Regions from separate parts of the Homo sapiens genome. Here region 2 is linked to region 1. Evidence: fine-mapped expression QTL. A gene starts in region 1. The other region holds a variant in brackets. All regions are shown on one strand. Distances are from middle to middle.

Evidence for each region.
Region 2: its variant is fine-mapped to the expression of PDE1B in whole blood (TOPMed, PIP above 0.99).

The regions. Positions count from the first base shown.
Region 1 is chr12:54,543,014-54,553,583 of GRCh38, forward strand. It overlaps PDE1B (phosphodiesterase 1B), which reads left to right and starts at 6,588. Exons shown (of 16, transcript NM_000924.4): 1 at 6,588-6,759; 2 at 6,847-6,972. The coding sequence starts at 6,860. It overlaps NCKAP1L (NCK associated protein 1 like), which reads left to right. Exons shown (of 31, transcript NM_005337.5): 31 at 1-5,230. RefSeq lists enhancers at 3,446-3,990, 7,138-7,766 and a silencer at 6,513-6,572.
Region 2 is chr12:54,489,185-54,499,826 of GRCh38, forward strand. It overlaps NCKAP1L (NCK associated protein 1 like), which reads left to right and starts at 8,568. Exons shown (of 31, transcript NM_005337.5): 1 at 8,568-8,707; 2 at 10,171-10,281. The coding sequence starts at 8,606. RefSeq lists enhancers at 8,530-8,589, 8,700-8,759. The variant T/G (reference allele first, on the strand shown) is at 6,052.

The DNA of each region.
Region 1 (10,570 bases):
GGGCCTCTCCGACCTTCATCACTATTCTTAGGATAATGCTGGCGGGCAGAGATGATCAATCATCATATTAAATCATAATGAGCTTATAATCCTCCCACTGGAGCTGCTATTGTCTCCTGCACATTCATTAGGACCATTATCTTCTCTCTTCCTTTTTCAAATGTGTTCAGCAAACATTCAACCTGCTCCTACTGCAGAGTAGCAGCAAAGGAGCCCCTCTTTTCCTTTGTGGGGCTCTTCGAGGGGTCATTGGGTCTCTTCCTTTGCCCCCAGCTTGACTGCGTTTCCTACTGGGGCAAGGAGGAAGTGCCCTTCAGAGATGTTCACTGCCCACCTACTCTACTACATTGTTTGTTACAAGTTCTCTCTTGCTTTAACCCCTCCTGCTTTGATATCTCCACAACCCAGAGCAGAGGGTCAGTTAGTCTCCGTCAATTCTAGGTTACATGACAACTGATTGGCCCAGACTTAGGTGGGTTTTCCCTCCTGTACCATTTGGGGGTACTCTGCCTTTTATTGGGAGGGACTAATTTAACCCCAAATCCTTTTGTCAGCCTGGGTATAGCTGTTGCTCCAGGAAGGGATTTCTCTTCTGGATCTTAAATTTCACAGACCTCATTAGGTTGTATGGCCCTGAGAGTGGGTATCCTTGAGGGAGTACAAGCTGTTTCAACTTAGCCCTTTTCTGCGCTAATTAGAATTTCAAGCGTCACAGAGCCTGGGGGCTTTCAAGATAGCACTAAACTAGGTTTACTTAACTCCTTGGCAGGAAATAGTGGCCCCCATGCATCACTTCTGTGAATCCACTGCCAGGGAGAAGTGGAGAAACAGATCATATATGTCACAGGTCTAGAGTGGTTGGAATTGACAAATATAATTAGCTAGTTGGTTAATTAGGGTCATGTCCATACTTTCATGATGAAAGGGAAGCAGTTGTCGGTTTTCAGCAAAAACGATTCAGCCTTCCTGAAGCCTATTTGATAGCTGTTTTGGGGTTTTGTACATGTGTTTGCTTTTTATTTCTTGAGACCCAGGCTTAGTCAATACTTTCTTAACTTGGCACCCATAATCAACATACAGATTTTTCTTAGCAACAGTTGTCTGCTCTTTAGGGTGGAAGCGATAGAGAATCCTGCTTCGTGCATCAGCAAATCCTCCTTCCTTGCTATGGGAAGGGCTTATGTTCTAAAGGGTGATTCAGTGTCAGGCTTATGAGACTGAGAGTAAAGTTGATGAGGAAGAGGAGGCTCAGAAGTATCTGAACAACTACTCTATATGTTTATATTTTTCTGCTTGAGGGGATAGAGATCCCTCCTCCATCTGCATCTGCATATAGAACTGCTTAAGAGGACAGCAAGACAAGTTGCTGCAGGGGGATGGAGGGTAGACAGAATGCCTTTTTTTAAAACTGAAAATTTTATTGAGATACTTAATCCACCTGCACTTGTAAGAAATCATACAGAGAAATTCTATTTTCCTTTACACAGTTTCCCTGAATGCTAACATCTAGCAAAACTGTAGTACACTGCCACAACCAGGATAACTGACATTGATATAATCTACTGATCTTGTTCAGATTTCCTTCCCCAGTTTTGCTTATGTTCATTTCTCTCTGTGTGTGCACGTGTGTGTGTTATCTATTTCTATACAGCTTTATCATGTGTAGGTTTGTGTATCTGCCACTGCAGTCAACATACAGAACAGGCCGGGCGCAGTGGCTCACGCCTGTAATCCCAGCACTTTGGGAGGCCAAGGCAGGTGGATCACCTGAGGTCAGGGGTTTGAGAGCAGCCTGGCCAATATAGTGAAACACCGTCTCTACTAAAAATACCAAAACTAGCCGGGCGTGGTGGTGCATGCCTGTAGTCCCACTACTCAGGAGGCTGAGGCAGCAGAATAACTTGATCCCGGGAGGCGGAGGTTGCAGTAAGCTAAGATCCTGCCACAGCATTCCAGGCTGAGTGACAGAGCGAGACTCTGTCTCAAAAAATAAATAATAATTTAAAAAAAGATACAGAACAGTTCCATCACCACAAGGATCCCTCGCATTGCTCTTTTATAGCAATTTTATAGCAATTTTCTCCTCCCACAACCCCCTTCCCCATCTCTAGCTCCTGGTAACACAGATATATTCTCTATTTCTAAAATTTTGTCATTTGATATATCTTTTTGTAAACATATAATTATACACACATATTTCTCTACCACTTATACTTTTTCAAAGTGCTTTCACATCCTTATAGCAATTCTGCAAGGTAGCCAGGGAAGGCTTTCCTATTTCAGGTCAGAAAACAGATTTAGAAATATTAAATGACTTAATGAAGGTCACATGTTTAGCAGTAGAACTAGAACTGGGACCCAAGTCTGATGTTCAGTCCTAGACCTTTTCTACTTGCCCGGTCTGCCTCTTCACAAGGGAAGACTTGGGTTTTAGAATCCAGAGACCTTAGAAGGAGCAAATTGGAGAAGGTGAGGACATGATGGCCTTTACTACCGGAAGCAAAAAGTGAATGTCCAGAGGTGAAGGGACAGAGAAGTAACAGGACCCATCAGCATTTCAGGCAATTTGCTTCCTTTACCAGGAGGGTCTCTGTCCTCTTACAACCTGGGAAAAAATAAGTTGTGTCCCAGGTTGTAAGTTTGCTTTACTTAGGCCCAAAGGAACTAAAGAATGGATATCAGAAATCTCACCCCAATTGTTTTGTCTTACAGGCACAGAATAGGTTCTAGCCTCAGCATTTTCATTAATGTAGTGTTTTTATTAACATCTCCATTAACTTGCTTGCAGCAATGAGATGGAATTATGCCTCCCACAAGGCCTGGGGCAAGATACTTGCATAGGTGCCCCCTTTTGTTTGGACAGTAGAAACACTGCCTCCCCTGCCATGGTGTTCAATCCAGTTGGCAGGTGGGCCAGCTTCAAAGTGCAGAAGGAACTGGGTGTGGTGGCTCACCCCTGTAATCCCAGCACTTTGGGAGGCAGGCGGATCGCTTGAACTCAGGAGTTTGAGACCACTCTGGGCAACACAGTGAAACCCTGTCTCTCCAAAAATACAAAAAATTAGCTGGGCATGGTGGCTGTTGTCTGTAATCCCAACACTTTGGGAGGCTGAGGCCAGTGGATCTCTTGAGCTAAGGAGGTTAAGACCAGCCTGGTCAACATGGCGAACTCCGTCTCTACAAAAAAATACGAAAATTAGCTGGGCGTAGTAGTTCCTGCCTGTAGTCCTAGCTACTTGGAAGGCTGAGGTGGGGAGGATCGCTTGAGTCCGGGAGGCAGAGGTTGCAGTGAGCGAAGATGATGCCATTGCACTCCAGTCTGGGTGACAGAGCAAGATCCTGTCTCACAAAAAAAAAAAAAAAAAAAAATGCAGAAGGTCCAGGGCCTGGCCAAGGGGATGATGCCCTGTAGCACTTTGCTTTGCAGGAAGGGAACAACTGTGCTGTGAATACCAGGATCCAGGAGGGAGGGAGGGTATATCTGTGTCCCCCAGCTAGGGACAAGGCTTCCTTAACCTTAGGTCCTCATGCTTATATTAGTTCTTCTCCAACAAAGTTTGACTTTGAGAAGAAGCTGGCACATGGCTGAAATGCACTCACGCGGTTGGGGGAAGAGTGTTCTTCCAGTCCTCCTCCCCACAGGGCCTCCTGCTTCTCCTAAGTACCTGTCATCAAAGGAGATGAAGATGAATCCCCCTTCAGCCCCCACACCTCAATGAGTTGTCAAGTACTCTCCCTCCCACTTGAATAGGAAGCAGGAGCAGCAGGCCAGGTTGCAGGTTGAGGAAGTCAGAAGTTAACTTGAGCTGAGTTTGCAGCTCTGGAGAGATTGAGGAGCAGACTTTTCTCTTGTCACTTTGGAAGGAGAGGATTGTGAGGCTGCCCCTTTAAATAGCATTCCCGTAGGAGGCAGATCACATCCATCCGTCACCTACTGCCAAAGCATCATTTTTGGTTTCTATCAAACTCAAAGCTTGTTGGAAAGGATTGTGGGGTTAGGGGAGTGAGGAGGCAGAGCCTCCTAGGGGTAGGGGGCAGTTTAGAAGCTGAAAAGGAGAGGAATGAGAAGGAGCCTGGGAAAGGTGGGGGATGAGGACAAGAGGAAAAGACAGGGAGAGAATAGTTGTCTTTTGAGCCTCAGAGTGGAACAAGTATACCCAATTCTTATCTGTTTAGAGACGCAGCAAGGTAGAAATGGGATTGTATTGCAACAAGAGGAATGAGGTTGAGACTAAACACCAGGACTGGTGACTAAAGAAAGTGAAAGGAGCCACAGAGTGAAAAAGGCTGATAGACTTGGCTCTGGTTTTATCACTTACTCTCTGTGAGACCCTATAATTTTTCTGGGTTAGTTTAGTTCTCATTTATTTTTATTTTTACTTTTTCCATCAAACTGTGTTGTCTATGAAGTTTTCCCATTTATTAAATGAAGGGAATTAGAGTGGATGAACTCTAATGTCTCTTTCACGAATAACTTTGTGTGTGTGTGCGTGTGTGTGTGTGTGTGTGTGTGTGTGTGTGAATTAGCCTTAAAATGAATCAGGAGCAGGGGGTCTTGGGAGAGCAGGATGTGACACTGTGTTAACAAGAAATGTTGAGAGAGCCCTCTGGATGTATGTCTTGCCTCTTTCCCACCTATTCTAGTTTAAAGACCTGCCTAAATTTGGAAACTCCTTAGCTCTAATCCTAATTTACTAATTAGAGCTCTTTAGCACCATCCTAATTTGCAATTCTTTTGTAGTTTCCAGCCCATTTCATTTTCAGTTGATAAGGAGGAGATTGCTCCCAAATTTTCAGAAATGGACTGTGTAGGAGTGTGACTAGGGTCTCAGATGCAGCCATTTCTTGGCTGGGTCTGGGGAAAAGCCAAGGGATGTGTGCTAAAGGTAGATGGACAGAGGGTGGGAAGTCCCTTATTATTTCCACTTTTTTCTCCATCTCTGACTCTGCCATCTCTTTCTGCCTCTGTACTTTCTGGGAGCTGGTTCTGCTGATACTTCTGCTGAATCTAAATGCTGACCTAACTTGGCAATTCTTTTATGTTAGGAGTCTTAGCTGTGACAGTTCATCCGCTTCTTCGCCCTTCCATTTCACTTCTTTTCTCCTTCTCTGACTGGGAGAGGAGGAGCCTCCACTCAGTATTTAGAACAGAGTAAATACCTTCTCCTGATCACTCCTCCTTCCAACCTCCAGAATTTTTTGAAATTAAAATTCACATTCTGGGATCCTGGATTAGTGGCCTGTTTTGGATTCAGTAGTTAGTGAATATATCTCCACTTTCTGTTGACATAGGAGTTTCCCCAATGCCAAAGCAGGTGGTCATTAAGGGAGAGAACAATATGGAGCAAGAGAGGTGGTTCCTGCAAGAGTCCTAGGTAGGACTCGGTTGGATGGAGGAGGCTTTGCCCTTTTACAAGGTCTTGAGTTCAAATTCCAGTTCACTCCTTCCACAAATGTTTATTAACCAGCTAGGCTGTTTTGTGCTGGGCCTTTAGCTCCTAGATTTCTTTCTCTGAAGACAGAACAGAAAAAATGAGCTGGAAGTGCTTCAGGAGGGGTTTTGATATCAGGAATGCTTTCCTGGCTGTGTAGAGTTATTACCTAGTCAAAGAAGAAGATGTTAAGCTGGGTGCGGTGGCTCACACCTGTAATCCCACCACTTTGGGAGGCCGACGTGGGCGGATCACGAGGTCAGGAGTTGGAGACCAGCCTGGCCAATATAGTGAAACCCCATCTCTACTAAAAAATACAAAAATTAGCCGGCGTGGTGGCCCGCGCCTGTAGTCCCAGCTACTCCAGGAGGCTGAGGCAGGAGAATCGCTGGAACTGGGGAGGCAGAGGTTGCAGTGAGCCGAGATCGCGCCACTGCACTGCAGCCTGGGCGACACAGACTCCTTCTCAAAAAAAAAAAAAAAAAAAAAAAAAAAAAAAAAGATGCCTGCTCTGGAGAGCTTTGAACTTGGAAGAAATTCCTATCTGCTAGGCGGGCAGGCAGAAGTACCATGGAGAAGGCCACAGTCTTGGAGACAGGTGGGGAAGATCAAGCTGAGGGACCCGAGGCCAAGTGTGGGATGCCATCACAGCTCAGGGCACACCCTGAACTTTTCCAAGACAGGAGCACAGGTGGGGTCTGGTCCGACTGGGTTCCGAGTCCAGATCTAGCAGGGAAAGATGTGTGCTCATCCCCTACCCCGCACTCAGACATGGGACACGCAGGCAGCTAGGCACACGTGGATACATGGAACCACAACCACATACACAGAAACTCAAAACACACGGAGAGAACCCACACAACCACCCACACCGAAGTCCAGCCCGCCGCCTCCGCTGCACTCTGTAAACACGCACTCACATCCGCCAGTACAGGGCACACGCAGCCACTCGTCCCCGGCGCCTGTGTGCGTGCGCTCGCCCTTGGGCGCTTCTGTCTGTGTGTGCCCCCGGCTTCCAATCGTTCCTTTGGGAGGGGGAGGAGTGGCTGTGAGGAGTGAGAGACTGGCGGGCAGGCTGAGGAGAAGGGAGGGAGAGCAGAGGGAGGGGGGAACCCGGCCGGGGGAGGAGGAGAGAGGCGAGGAGGCGGCTCTGGCAGCGCGCGGCGGCGGCGGCGGTAGCGGCAGCAGCAGCGGCGGTGCGGAGAGCTTGGACTGGGAGCCCAAAGCTCGGCTGGGCAGCGGGAGAGGAGGAGCCGCAGGAGCTGCAGCTCTGCCAGCTTGGGCCGAGCCTAGAGACACCGGCCTGGCTGGTCCACGCCAGCCGCAGGTGGGAAGGGCCTGGGATGGGGGGTGAGGGTCTCTCGGCTGGGGCTGAAGCTGAGCCGAGGTGCTGTCTCCTCCTTCTGTTCCGTAGACCGTGGCTGAGCATGGAGCTGTCCCCCCGCAGTCCTCCGGAGATGCTGGAGGAGTCGGATTGCCCGTCACCCCTGGAGCTGAAGTCAGCCCCCAGCAAGAAGATGTGGATTAAGCTTCGGTCTCTGTAAGTCCCCGGCCCGGGAATGGGGGGAAGGGACCTTAGGGAGCCTGAGCGGGAGGAGGAGGGGGGATAACTGGAGCAGGGCTGTGGGCTGGTAGATTCTCTTTGGCACAGATGTTGGCAGGTGCGAGGAAGCACGGCCCTGACACGCGTGGCCAGGCCACATGTGCAAGGCATGTGCGGAGCAAGCTGGCCAGTTGGAGCGGGCTTAGGAGTTGCAAAGGTAACGATGTGCCTGTGCCTGTGGACCCCAGGCTGACACACGCAGCGCCTAGAGGCAGCACAGTATATGCAGTGTGGCAGGGCTGCAGGAGGGCAGTAGAGGTGCCAGGCTGACTCACACATATCCATGTGCAGAGTTGTGCAGATGTGAGCCACATGACATGTGTGTGCATGAGTGAGCGTGGGTCACAGAGGTATGTGGAGTGATTGCACACAGCTGTAGATCTACTGCATGGGAATACTTGTGCCAACCTGTGGGTCATATGTATCTCAGTTGGGATTGGTAGTTTCTGCCTCATGCACAGGAAGTGGGGTGGGGGTTACCCCATGCCTGAGCTGCTCATCTCTTGGGGCCTGGAAACTCACTCTATGTATTAATGATGAGGGGACCCACGTGGAATCTGGAGGGGGGGTTGGAGCCCCCACCTGGAAGCTGAAGGAGGTGATGATGGTGAAGAAATATTGATTGACAAAGGCAAGGTAACTGGCTTAATCAGAGGCTTTTTGTTTATATAGGGTCTTCCAGGATCTCCAAGCACATTTGGGCATCTTTTCCTATTGTTGCAGTACCAGGGCATGTGGGGAGGAATAAATGGGGGAAGGAAGAACTCAGGTATCTGATACTCCAGTCCCAGGGGAGGAAAGGAACTTTTCCCCTGCTCCTTAGAAAAAAAAGAGGATTGGGTCAAAGACAAGCCATGCACCATGTTTATCTCCCAGTCAGCTGCTGCCATTGGGAAATCTCCGCAGTCTGTTGATTCTTAATCAGGGAACAAGAGAAGATGTCCCTCTCTCCGAGATGAATCCATGGCCCCAGGAAAGAGGAAACAGATAGGAGACTATGGATGTTTAGAGAGGAAACACAGTAAACATAGCCCTGAACCCAGTTCCTCCTCAATGTTCTCCATAGTGAGCACCGAAGCTTTCTATTTCTGGGTTCTGGGAGAGGGAGAGATGGGGGTAGGGGATGGATAGATGCTTATGTTGTATTGTTCTTTAAATACTTCACCTATGGTGATAAGATGACACCTTTTTATGGCAGATGGGTCTGATTTATACACTAGCTACTTGGAGAGGCGTTAGGGAGAACTGAGGCATAGTGGGCAACAAGGCTTGGAATCCAAATGTACTTCTCAGTCCTCCTCCTTGGCTGCCTCTGGCCAATCCAATTTGCTGGGCTCTATGAAGCACAGCCTTGGAATGAGTTCTGGGATGAAGAAATGGAAAACCAGATTGAACTGATTTTTGTTGGGAGGAGCACTGTGTGATTCTTGATAGAAAATGACGCTGCGTTAATGGTAAATGAGCTGGGGAAAGGGGCAGATAAGGAAGTAGTTGAAAGGTAAAGAAGGGCCCCAGGTCCATAAATGGGAGAATTCAGGATGGCTCCCCTAACACTAGTGGCTCATCATACTTACCTTGCCTGTATTCCAGGTAACAGGGCCCTGCGAAAGAGTGGGTATTACTAGTTTCACTATCTCCCACACATTTCTAACCAAAAGCCTTTCCTGAAAATGAATTGTTGTTTCTTCCTTTAGTGTGAGAAGTGCTCAGTGGTGAGAGAAGAGGATTCCCAGAAGGAGGCATGAAACCTGGGAAGAGAAGGGAGTAGAGGCATCTGTCTCTCCAGAGTGCCTTAGCTGAGATGTCCTTACATGAGATTAGGGTGGACAAGGATCCCTATTCTTATTGATTAGATCATTCTGGTCTTCACTCACTTCAGCAGTCTGGTCCTTAAGAATGCTAGCTTTGTACAATAAATTTACAAGTAAAAAATAAAGCTAGCTACATGTAATATAACTTACCCAAAAAAGTACAATCTCCGGATTATTAATTGGCAGGAATAGATTCCCAGTCTTACGTCCTTAAAGCAGAGAAAGACCTTGAAATCAAGGTAGATCCCAACTTGATCTATGTTGATGGCCTACTGGATTTTGCCTTTTTGAATATTGGGGAGGCTTTGACTATCAGATGAAGGGAAATAAAAGGATTTAGGGCTTTGCTGGGTAAGAGGTGGGAGTTTCCCAACCCTCTCAATGGGATGGTTTCTGAATAGGTGAGAAAGGAGATGTTCCCCCTTTTAAGTGGAAATAAAGATCCCCCTGCCCCTTTGGTCAAGGTGGGAAGGGGTTGCTAAGTCTGGAAATAGGAAATAGACATGATTATCTTAGGACTGGGTACTGCTTGGAAATGGAAACATGGCATATATACTTGTATGTATTTATCTAACTATCTATCTAGATTCTTCTACTCAACACATCCTATTCCCCCCCTTCTACCCTTTTAATTTCTAATCAGGACATCCAGACTTTCTTCAGGGAGACTAGGCCTGGTGTTTTTGACTCTGGATAAAAAGCCCACACTAATATAATAGTGCAGGGCAATTTTTTGTTGGGAAGAGCATCCAAGAATTCTGTTTCCCACACTAAGACCCTGTCAAAAATAAATTCAGAATCTAATCTGTATCATATGAGCTGAAGAGAATCTCTTAACTGTGTGATTTTACCCCTATTTTCAGAACAATTTCTCTAATTAAGCAAACTCATAAACTGAGGCATGAGAGAGGGTGAAAGAGGCCATCTGGAGATGATGAGTTGGCCAGGATGATTTTCAGCATCTGTAACCCTAAGAGGAAGTATTTGACTTGGCTGTCCACCCTTCTCTGAGATCAGAGGGCTTTAGGGAATGGGAAGAAGACCAGAAGAGATAGAAATGATTTTCTGTGTCTTTTGTGATTCAAGAAAAACGATGAGCAGACATTGGTTTGCCATCCTCAGCTCATTTATTTATCCAACAACTATTTCTTGAGTGCCTTCTATGGACCAGGTGGCATGCTGGATGCTGAGAATACAGTCGGTGGTGGACAAAACAGACATAGTCCCTCTTCCTACAGAGCTTGTAACCTGCTTCAACTCCATCAAGTGGTGTAGAGAGGCAGGGGGCTCTGTATTCCCTGTTTTGCTACACCCACCCAAGTGATGAAATTCTACCACTCTGGGTTTCTGCCTCATTTTTTCTTTAGGGGGGTTATATACATAGGAAAAGCATAAATATGAGTTCTCTTTTTCCCAGGATGGTACAAACACCACTCTCTTTTCTCTGCTCCAGTTTCTCTTGGAATTTTACATTTTACAGATGGAACTTCCCCCTTCCTTTGGGACAGTATAGACATAGTCCCTTTCTCTTTTTCTTTCCCCACATGGTACGCACTCGGGACCCTCAAAGTCTAGGCTCAATGTTCTATGCTGTGGTTCAAGGTCATTATAGATGAGCTGGAGCAGGGACCCCACTGGGGATTATTTTTGCTTATCTTTGTTTCATCAGAGTCTAGTGTGATACCTTGAACATAACAGGCACTCAATAAATGCTGTTAAATAAA
Region 2 (10,642 bases), 54 kb before region 1:
TGGCAGCAGTACAGTCCAGCTTCTGCTCGGCATCAGAGGGAGACCGTGGAAAGAGAGGGAGAGGGAGACCGTGGGGAGAGGGAGAGGGAGAGGGAGACCGTGGGGAGAGGGAGAGGGAGAGGGAGAGGGAGAGGGAGAGAATCTTTGATTTTTCTAGAAGGAAAAAGTTCTAGGTTTTCCCTGTATTCCATCCTCCACCCCTTTCTGGAAATGCTGAAGACAGATACCATGTTCCAACATTAAGAACTGCCAGGTGCTACATATGGTCAGAAGCTTGTTTATTTTCATTTTTATTTATTTATTTATTTATTTATTTATTTATTTATTTATTTATTTATTTATTTGAGATGGAGTCTCGCTCTGTCACCCAGGCTGGAGAGCAGTGGCGCAATCTCGGCTCACTGCAAGCTCTGCCTCCCGGGTTCACGCCATTCTCCTGCCTCAGCCTCCCCAGCAGCTGGGACTACAGGCGTCCGCCACCACGCCCGGGTAATTTTTTGTATTTTTTTTTTTTTTAGTAGAGACAAGGTTTCACCATGTTAGCCAGGATGGTCTCGATCTCCTGACCTCGTGATCCGCCCACCTCGGCCTCCCAAAGTGCTGGAATTACAGGCATGAGCCACAGCACCTGGCCTATTTTTATTTTTTATTTTTAGAGATGAGGTCTTGCCATGTTGTCCAGGCTGGTCTTAAACTCCTGGTCTCAAGCAATCCTCCCACCTTGGCCTTCCAAGGTGCTTGGATTACAGTGTGACCCACTGCACACAGCCTAATTTTTTTTTTTAAAAACGTTAACTTTTTATTTCTGAGGTTATTTTCTCCCTCTAGTGGCTTACAGTTCTTATCAGGAAAACTTACTCTTCTGCATGACAGGTGGTACTGTAATCTGCTGGCTGGCCTCCTGTGGTTTGGGTCATAAGGACACATTTCTAAGGCTTCTGGCTCCATGAGGACTAAATGGTAGGAACCACAGGTTGTCAAATAAAAAGAATGACATTTAAGATCAGGTAGTCTTGGCATAGACCTATTTTATATTGTCAAAACAAAAGTAATATGAAAGATAGGAGTATCTCAAGTCTTACCTATGAAAGTTTCGAGTAACCAAAGCAATAGCCTAGCCAGTTAGACAGTAGGGGAAATTCACTGCTTCCATGCAAAAAATTAACGTTTGTATATATTTTTAGTCTTATAAGTTGTGTTAGATAGAGTGCTTGTCTCTCAAATAAAGTATTAAACAGGCAAAGGTCCTTGGAAAACTCAGTCTGGAGTAAGATGAATTTTTTTTTTTAAGACAGTTTCACTCTTGTTGGCCAGGCTGGAGTGCAATGGCGTGATCTCGGCTCACCACAACCTCTGCCTCCCGGGTTGAAGCTATTCTCCTACCTCAGCCTCCCGAGTAGCTGGGATTACAGGCATGTGCCAAGCCTGGCTAATTTTAAATTTTTATTAGAGACGGAGTTTCTCCATATTAGTCACGCTGGTCTTGAACTCCCGACCTCAGGTGATCTGCCTGCCTTGGCCTCCCAAAGTGTTGGGATTACAGGCATGAGCCACAGCGCCCAGCCAGTGAAATTTCATACTGTAAGCTTGAGTGCTGGAGAAAGAAAGGCTGGGACAGCTGGTTCCTTTACTATTCAGCATTGGTCCCTCCATCCCTTTTCCAACTTACCTAAATTAAGCTCTTTGCCAGGGAAAGATGCTAATTGTCAGATAGGTCAGCATAGCCACTGTTGGAGAAAAGGAATCTGAAGTATGAACAGTACAATGCTTAAGTTCAGGCTACTTTATAATTATAATAATTATTTTTTAGAGATGGGGCCTTGATGTTGCCGAGGCTGGAGTGCAGTGGCTCTTCACAGGTGTGATCATAGCACATGACAGCCTCAAACTTCTGGGCTCAAGCAATCCTTCTACCTCAGCCTCCTGAGTGGCTGGGACTACAGGTACATGCCAACATGCCAATCTTGGGCTACTTTATAGTTACCTGAGAATGTCAGTCTCAAATTTCTAAAGTTGTAGGTATTAACATATGAAGACTCCTAGAAGTGATTCAAGAATATACCATCTCAGATCTGCTACATTTTACTGCCAATATAAGGCCTACTTTCTTCCATGGCTAGCTGTCTTTAGCTATCCTAGCAGACGTTCATATTAAGGACTCTCAAGTTTCCAGGCAACAGCTACACCGAGATTTCTGCAAAGCATGGACAGTATAGTTTGATGGAGGAAAAATAAGATCAAGGCAGACTGGAATAAGCAGTAGGGATAGAAAAGTGCCTTAGAATAGTCCATTTCAATTCTGCTTTGCATCATGCCTAGGGCATAGATAAAGGGCACAGAGCTAGACTATTAAATGTCAGATTTTCCTGAGGGCATTTTGGTGACTAAATCCAGGGATTTAGACTCAGGTACCTTTCAGGAATACAAGTCAGGGTAGTTGTTTAAAGCTTTCACTGCATATTAATGATTATATTAGAGCCATGAACCCTTATTATAAAGTGAATTGGCTCTCTGGAAAATAAAGGCTGCAGCATAATTCAATGTTGTATACTGTTATCTTTAGATTTTTAAAGATAATGGAAAAAGATCTTCAATAACCCAAATGTAGTCTTCAGACAACCCCAAACCCTCATTTTGGCCAGCAGCCTAGAAAAGTATGAAGTTTGACCAGACTGATAAGCCTGGTCTTAATAAATGAAGACTGCTTTAGAATAGGTGGCGAGAATTGGTGACGCTGGGTTATTCACCTGATTATGGATAGCTGAATGGAGGCTAAGACCATTTCCTTTGATATATGTTAGACATGGCCAAAGCATTCCCAACCTTGATGCCACCTTGACACTTAAACCTAGCCTAAAGGATCTTGAGACCTACCTTATTCTTGAAGGAGTGTCTGTCAAGAATCTGAAGGCAAGTGTGACTTGAAGGCGAAGACGATCCTTTGGTAAGACAAAAATAAGACAAATAGCTGAAGTTTGAGGAGAGGGAAAGCACAGTACCTTTTAGTCTGGTGATGTGAATCAACTTTCCATTCAAGCTACTCAATTCCTCTTTTCCCACCATATGTTCTATGATTTCTCAGAGGTTCGGAAATTTTTGATGTCATAGTTAAGTCTTAGAGAACTGGCTCTCAATCCTGATTGTTCATGAGAATCACTGAGTAGTTTTAAAGTGACAGGTCCTTTGGTCCCACTCCAAAACTACTGGATCAGAATCTTCAAGAATGGGCTCTGGCTAATTGTGGCTTTAAAAGAGTTCCACAGGTCTGGCACAGTGGCTCACACCTATAATTCTAGCACTTTGGGAGGCTGAGGCAGACAGATTGCTTGAGGCCAGAATTTTAAGACCAGCCTGGGTAACATAGTAAGACCCCCATCTCTATAAAAAAATTTAAAAAATTATCCTGGTGTGGTGGCGTGTGCCTGTAGTCCAAGCTACATGGGAGGCTGAGGCAGGAGGATCACTTGAGCCCAGGAGTTCAAAGCTGCAGTGAGCTATCATGACACACAGTTGTACTCCATCCTGAGCATCAGAGCAAGACCCTGTCTCTATTAAAAAAAAAAAAAAAGAAAGACTTCTACAGGGGATTCTAGGTCTACCAGGCCATACTTTGGGAGTAATTAAATACCTTTAGAAGGGTTCCTCCAGTTTATGGGAGAAACTGCTGAATGATCTTTCCAATAAGTTTCTCTAAAAACTACCAGTTGGCATAGTTAGTTACATTAATTTTTTTGAGATGGAGTTTTGCTCTTGTTGCCCAAGCTGGGGTGCAATGGCATGATTTCGGCTCACTGCAACCTCTGCCTCCCGGGTTCAAGCGATTCTCCTGCCTCAGCCTCCCGAGTAGCTGGGATTACAGGCGTGCACCACCAAGCCTGGCTATTTTTTTGTATTTTTAGTAGAAATGGGGTTTCTCCATGTTAGCCAGCTGGTCTTGAACTCCTGACCTCAGGTAATCCGCCCACCTTGGCCTCCCAAAGTGCTGGGATTATAGGCGTGAGCCACCGTGCCTGGCAAAATTTTTTTTTTTTTTTGAGACGGAGTCTTGCCCTTGTCACCCAGCCTGGAGTGGCAATGGCTTGATCTCGGCTCACTGCAACCTCCATCTCCTGGGTTCAAGTGATTCTCCTGCCTCAGCCTCCTGAGTAGCTGGGATTACAGGTGCCCGACACCACGCCCGGCTAATTTTGTATTTTTAGTAGAGATGGGGTTTCTCCATTTTGGCCAGGCTGGTCTCAAACTCCTGACCTCAGGTGATCTGCCTGCCTTGGCCTCCCAAAGTGCTGGGATTACAGGTGTGAGCCACCACACTCAGCCCAGAAAATTTTTTTTGAGACAGGGTTTTGCTTTGTCTCTCAGGCTGGAGTGCAATGGTGCAATCACAGCTCACTGTAGCCTCAACCTTCTGGGCTCAAACAATCCTCCTGCCACAGCCTCCTGAATAGCTGGGACTACAGGTGTGTGCCACCACTCCCGGCTAATTTTTGTATTTTTTGTAGGGATGGAGATTCACCATGTTTCCCAGGTTGGTCTTGAACTCCTGGGCTCAAGCCATCTGCCTGCCTCAGCCTCCCAAAGTGCTGGGGTTATAGATGTGAGCCACTGCGTCTGGCCTAGTTCCATTTTTAAACCTAGAGTTTTTCTTTATGAGTGTCAAATAGAATCCACAGAAAGTGACATAACAAGCTCACTACACACTCAAAGATCAAAATTTTACTTTACTGTTGACATTCCTAATCCAATGTAGCAGGTCTTGAACCAAATGTTTACATATGCCATATTATTTCATCAGTTCCACAGTCGTATGAGGGATTACCACCATTTTATAGATTAGGAAACAACTCAATGGTGATAGATAGCTAAAGTTACAAAGCTAGTAAGTGTTTAGCATTATTAATATTAATTGAGGTAATACATGTAAGCTTGAGTGCTTATAGTACTTCAAATGCTTTACATGTACAGAGTAAGTAACTAGGCTATAACTTTTAAAATATGCACAATAGCTCCGTGAAATAGGAAGTATTATCAATATCATCTTTATTTTACAGACAGGATAAATAGGATGTGAACTCAAGATATCTGGTTCCAGAACCTGGGCTCTCGGTCACTAAATCATAAGGCTCAGCCCACTGTACTCAACTACACTTGAGCCAAATTCTGTCTGATAACAGCAGGTAGGCTTTTCGCATATACCAAGTACAGGGGAATAAGTGTTTCCAGGTTTCAACAATCTTTTGGTTCAGCTGGCTAGGCAGTATTATATGAAATGGGCAGTTAAGGACAGAACCTGATTTAGATGTAAAGTATGTGGTATAGACCAAGTGTTGTGGGAGTTCGGCAAAACCTAGACTTGGGACTATTGAGCTAGATCCTGAAGATTGACTAGGATTTGGGTAAGCAAGAAGGAAAGCATGCGTAAGTGAAGTCAGAGAGGCAGACATGAACATAGCACATTCACAGCAGGCTGAGAAGATGGTCCCCACCAAGTTGGGGAGTATCCATTAAGGAGCAGGAAACAAGATTAGCTTGGGATGCAGAGTCTTCAACCACACTTTCAGGATAAAGACAAGAAATTCAAGTGAGGTGGCTCACAAAAAATACAAAAATTAGCCAGACGTGGTGGCCTGCACCTGAAGTCCCAGCTACTCAGGAGGCTGAAGTGAGAGGATCTCTTGAGCCTGGGAGGTCAAGGTTGCAGTGAGCCATGATAGCACTACTGCACTCAAGCCTGGGCAACAGAGCGAGAGCTTGTCTCAGGAAAAAAAAAAAAAAAAAAAAAAGGAATGCAAGAAAGAGCCGCTAGAATTACACTAACCCCACGAAGACCGGTGCTATGCTGCTGCTAAGCTTCCTGGATGTTGGCCTCTTACTGTCTGCTCCATATTCTCCTTGGTAAAGGTAAAAGACCAGTAGAAATCCTACAAATTGCTTTAGTAAAACCTGGGTTTCTTTGATAACAGCAGGTAATTCAAATCTTCATGACCAATATCACATTACCTCGAGCCCATAGCTTTCTAGGGACCCAGTCTAGTAAATAAAATGGAAGGCAGA[T/G]TCTATATTCCTAAAATGCAAATTCTACCTTAGAGATATTTGAAATTTCATGCGTTAAGTGTTGCCATCTTGCTGCTTCTTTTAAAAATACATTCTCTTTGGAGCATGGATGTTAAGTTTCTTTTTAAAATTAAAAAACATTTAGATTCAGGGGATACACATGCAGGTTTGTTACATGGGTATATTGTGTGATGCTGAGATTTGGGCTTCTAATGAACCCATCACCCATGCCCAAATAGTGAACACAGTACTCAAGTTTTTTTTTCTTTCTTGCCTTTATTTATTTATTTATTTATTTATTTATTTATTTAGAGACATAGTCTTGCTCTATCGACCAGGCTGGAGTGCGGTGTTGAACTCCTGGGCTCAAGCGACCATCCCACCTCAGCCTCCTGAGGAGCTGGGCCTACAGCCATGTACCACCACACCAGGCTAATTTATTTTATTTTATCTGTAGAGGGGTGGGGGAAGGTCTCACAATGTTGCCTAGGCTGGTCTTGAACTCCTGGCTTCAAGCAATCCTTCTACCTTTGCCTCCCAAAGTGCTGGGATTATAAGCATGAGCCACTTCACCTGGCCCCAACTTCTTAAGTAATAATGCTGATCAGCCTTGTCTCTCTTCTCCCACTCCCTAGAATTTATTGGGACAATGGGAACTCTGGATACGGAAAATGGGAATGATTAAAAACCTGAGAAAAGGAATTGGCAAGGTGGTGGAAATGAAGAGAACTCTTTTTGATTTATAATTTTTCCTAGGACCTTTTGCTTTGTGTCTTGAAAGAAAGTTGAAATAGAGTTGAAAATTTTCTTGAGTTACGGAGTTAAGGCCTCATTGGAATGGCAAGAATATTTTAATGCTAAAATTCATTCAAGTCTCTAAGATTTAAGGGTGATTACTAATTTCCTCTTTTTAATCTTGATTAATTTGGTTCTTCTTCATGGGGCCTATTTCCTAATTTAGTCTTAATAATTCAACAAATAAACCAGCATATTTATTGAGTGACTACTGTGTCCAAGAGGTATTGTTCTAGATCAGTGTTTTTCAGAATGGAATATTTGTACCAAAACCTCCTACAACAGTGCTTATATAAGTACAGACTTCTAGGCCCCACAACAGACTCGCCTACCTACCAATGCTAATCTCAGAGGACAGGGATTGATCTGTTTCTCAAGCATCCATAAATACCATGGTACTAGAGCACTGGTTCTCAAACTTGAGTGTGCATTGGAATCACCTGGAGGGTTTGTTAAAACACAGAGTGCCTGGACCCACCCCAGAATTTTGGATTCAGTGGTCTGGGGCGGGTCCTAAGAATTTGCATCTCTAACAAGTTTCCAGGTGATGCTGATGCTGCTGGATCACATTTTGAGAATTACTATGTACTTCTTGAGAACTACTTTGAGAATTATTATGTACTGTAGAAGTACAATGCACTGTAGTAGAGCATTGTGAGAAATATAAAAAAGTATTAGAGGCCGGGTGTGGTGGCTCATGCCTGTAATTCCAGTACTTTGGGAGGCTGTGGCGGGTAAATCACCTGAGGTCAGGAGTTCGAGAGCAGCCTGGCCAACACGGTGAAACCCCATGTCTACTAAAAATACAAAAATTAGCAAGGCGTGGTGGTGGGCACCTGTAACCACAGCTACTCCAGAGGCTGAGGCTGGAGAATTGCTTGAGCCCAGGAGGTGGAGGTTGTAGTGAGCAGAGATCATGCCATTGCACTCCAGCCTGGGCAACAAGAGTGGAACTCTGTTTCAAAAAAAAAAAAAAAAAGAAAAAAAAGTATTAGGTACAATTCCTGTCATTAAGGAGCTTATGCTGTAGTTGGGGGAGATACAACGTACACTATAAACATATAACAAGGAATATATGTATTTGACAATATAAAATATAATACAATATAATATTTGACATTGATGGGGTCTTTAGGAGAAGATGGGATTTGATCTGGGTACTAAAACATGATGAGGCCAAAGGTTCATAGGCATTCTTGGATATAAAAGAAGGAAAATATAGAGGTGTACAGGGGTGGGGTGGTAGATACTTGTTTATCTAGCTTACAGCTTTTAATTTTTATTTTTTATAGAGATGGGGTCTTGCTATGTTGCCCAGGCTGGTCTGGAACTCCTGAGCTCAATGGATCTTCCCACCTTTTCCTCCCAAAGTGCTGGGATTACAGGTGTGAGCCACCACGCCCAGCTTTGTCTAGGACACTTATGGGGGCATAAGACCAAAAAGGTTGGTGCAGTCTGTGAAGAGCCTTGAAAGCCTGTCCTTCTCCTCAGCTCCACCCACTTCATAGCCTTACCAAAAGTGCTGCACAGCCAGAAAGAGGAAGTCTCCCCTGCTGAGTGTGCAAGAGGAAGCACAAGAAGGCTCTGAGGGCCTGTGAGCCATAATGACTGATTTCACCCATGAGCCAATTGCAGAGGCAACAGAAGACCAGTGCACCAACCAGGCTGGGTCCCTCCGCCAGAGGGTGTCACCATCTAAGCTGAAAGTGTTTGGGGAGATCAGACATTGCTGTCTGGTGCTCCTCTCTCAGTGGCCATCATGTCTTTGACATCTGCTTACCAGCATAAATTAGCAGAGAAGCTCACTATCCTGAATGATCGCGGTCAGGGGGTTCTCATCCGTATGTATAACATCAAGAAGGTAAGCATGAACAATGGGACTAGTACTGATTATTCCAACAATAATAGGGCAGGGAACCCTGAGGCGGCAGGTGCAGCAGTTAGACTCCCACCTTTTTTTCCACTGCTTTTCCACTGACTATAATCTACATAATCACTCAGATTATACAGGCCAGCCAGTTCAGGAAGGCAGAAGTGGAGGCTTCTTTTCAAGGCTTCCCCTTTCTAGATATGATTCTTGCCCCAACGATGGCATCTGCTTTCCTCTGGGGATGGGGGTGAGGGTGGGGATGGGGAAACAACAGTGGTATTCCAAGTGACTTGGATAAAGGTCTGGGGTCCAACCTTCTGGGTTTTATTATTTATTGTTGATCCTCTACACTCTGAAGAGATCTGAAGCTGGGTCTCTGGCAAAAACTTTTCTGTGGAAGTGCTTCCCTAAAAGGAAAAAAAATAGATAATTAGGTATTTAGATTAAAAAGGGTAGGTGTCTTCTGAGCTGCTCCTGGGGTAGTTCATGCTGTGGTGGTTGTGTGTGTGTGTGTGTGTGTGTGTGTGTGTGTGTTTAGAATAGGAACTGAGGAATTGAAAGAAGCTAGTGACAAGAGGTGGGCTAGGGGCTGGGCAAACCATAGGAAGTAAAGAGATAAAGACAGGGGTGTTTATGGGGAGTTCCTGGCATAGAAAATAGGGGACTTTGGGGGAGGGAGCTTTTGTGTTTTTTGTAATAAAACAAATCACCAGGAACACGGTTTCTCTGTCACCATGAATCCTGTAAATGCCCTTTGGGATAAGATACTTACATAGTGAACAAAATTGTGACACTGAATCTTGTACAAAGTCTAACTCCTGAGCAGCTGCTTTTCTTGTTCCTTCCGGCTTCAGTTGAGGGGCGGGGAAACAGCTTCCTCTTTGTGCTGGGGCCAAGCAGGCATTAAACTCTACCCATCAAGACAAAATGCCTAGGTTGTTATTTCGCTCTTAGATACTTGGCTTAATGTCTTGGAATTTTTTCTTGACCTACTCTTATGCTTTTTATTTTTATATTTATTTATTTATTTATTTATTTATTTATTTTCGGAGTCTCGCTCTGTCGCCCAGGCTGGAGTGCAGTGGCACGATCTTGGCTCACTGCAACCTCCGCCTCCCGGGTTCAAGCGATTCTCCTGCCTCAGCCTCCCAAGTACCTGGGACTACAGTTGTGCACCACCATGCCCAGCTAATTTTTGTATTTTTAGTAGAGACGGGGTTTCACCATGTTGGCCAGGCTGGTCTCGAACTTCTGACCTTGTGATCTGCCTGCCTCGGCCTCCCGAAGTGCTGGGATTACAGGTGTGAGCCGCTGCGCCCAGCCTCTCATGCTTTTTAAATTAGTTCCCAGGTTGCCTTTTCCTAAGACAGATTATGAGAATGAATGTTGCAAGAAGAGGTATGTTTCTGAGGAGGAGGAGAAAGGGTTGAAATATATATGGTTTCTCTCTGCAGACTTGTTCAGACCCCAAATCTAAGCCACCTTTCTTACTGGAAAAGTCCATGGAACCATCTCTCAAGTATATCAACAAGAAATTTCCCAACATAGATGTCCGAAACAGCACGGTGAGAACTTGGTCCTTCTCTCCTTTCTCTGAATAATTCTCTGCTTGAATGGCTGAAATTCTCCTCTTTTGATGCCTCTCTTCAAACTTGGCAGGGGATGGAGTAGTCTTTTTTTATTAATAGTTTTCCAAGGCTCAACCACAGGGCTTCAGGTTGTTGTAGAGCTTTAAGTCTTGAGCATTTTGAGATAAGATGGGATTCTTCCAGCATAAGCTGGAGCGAATCATCACCCCTTTTCCATTGCAAGATTCATGGGAAAACATTGTTTTTGTACAAGACAGCTCTATCAACCCAGCAGGGTACATGTATTTTATTGTTTCTGTTTCCCACTCACTGTTTCCTTGCTGTTTGTCTTAGATTT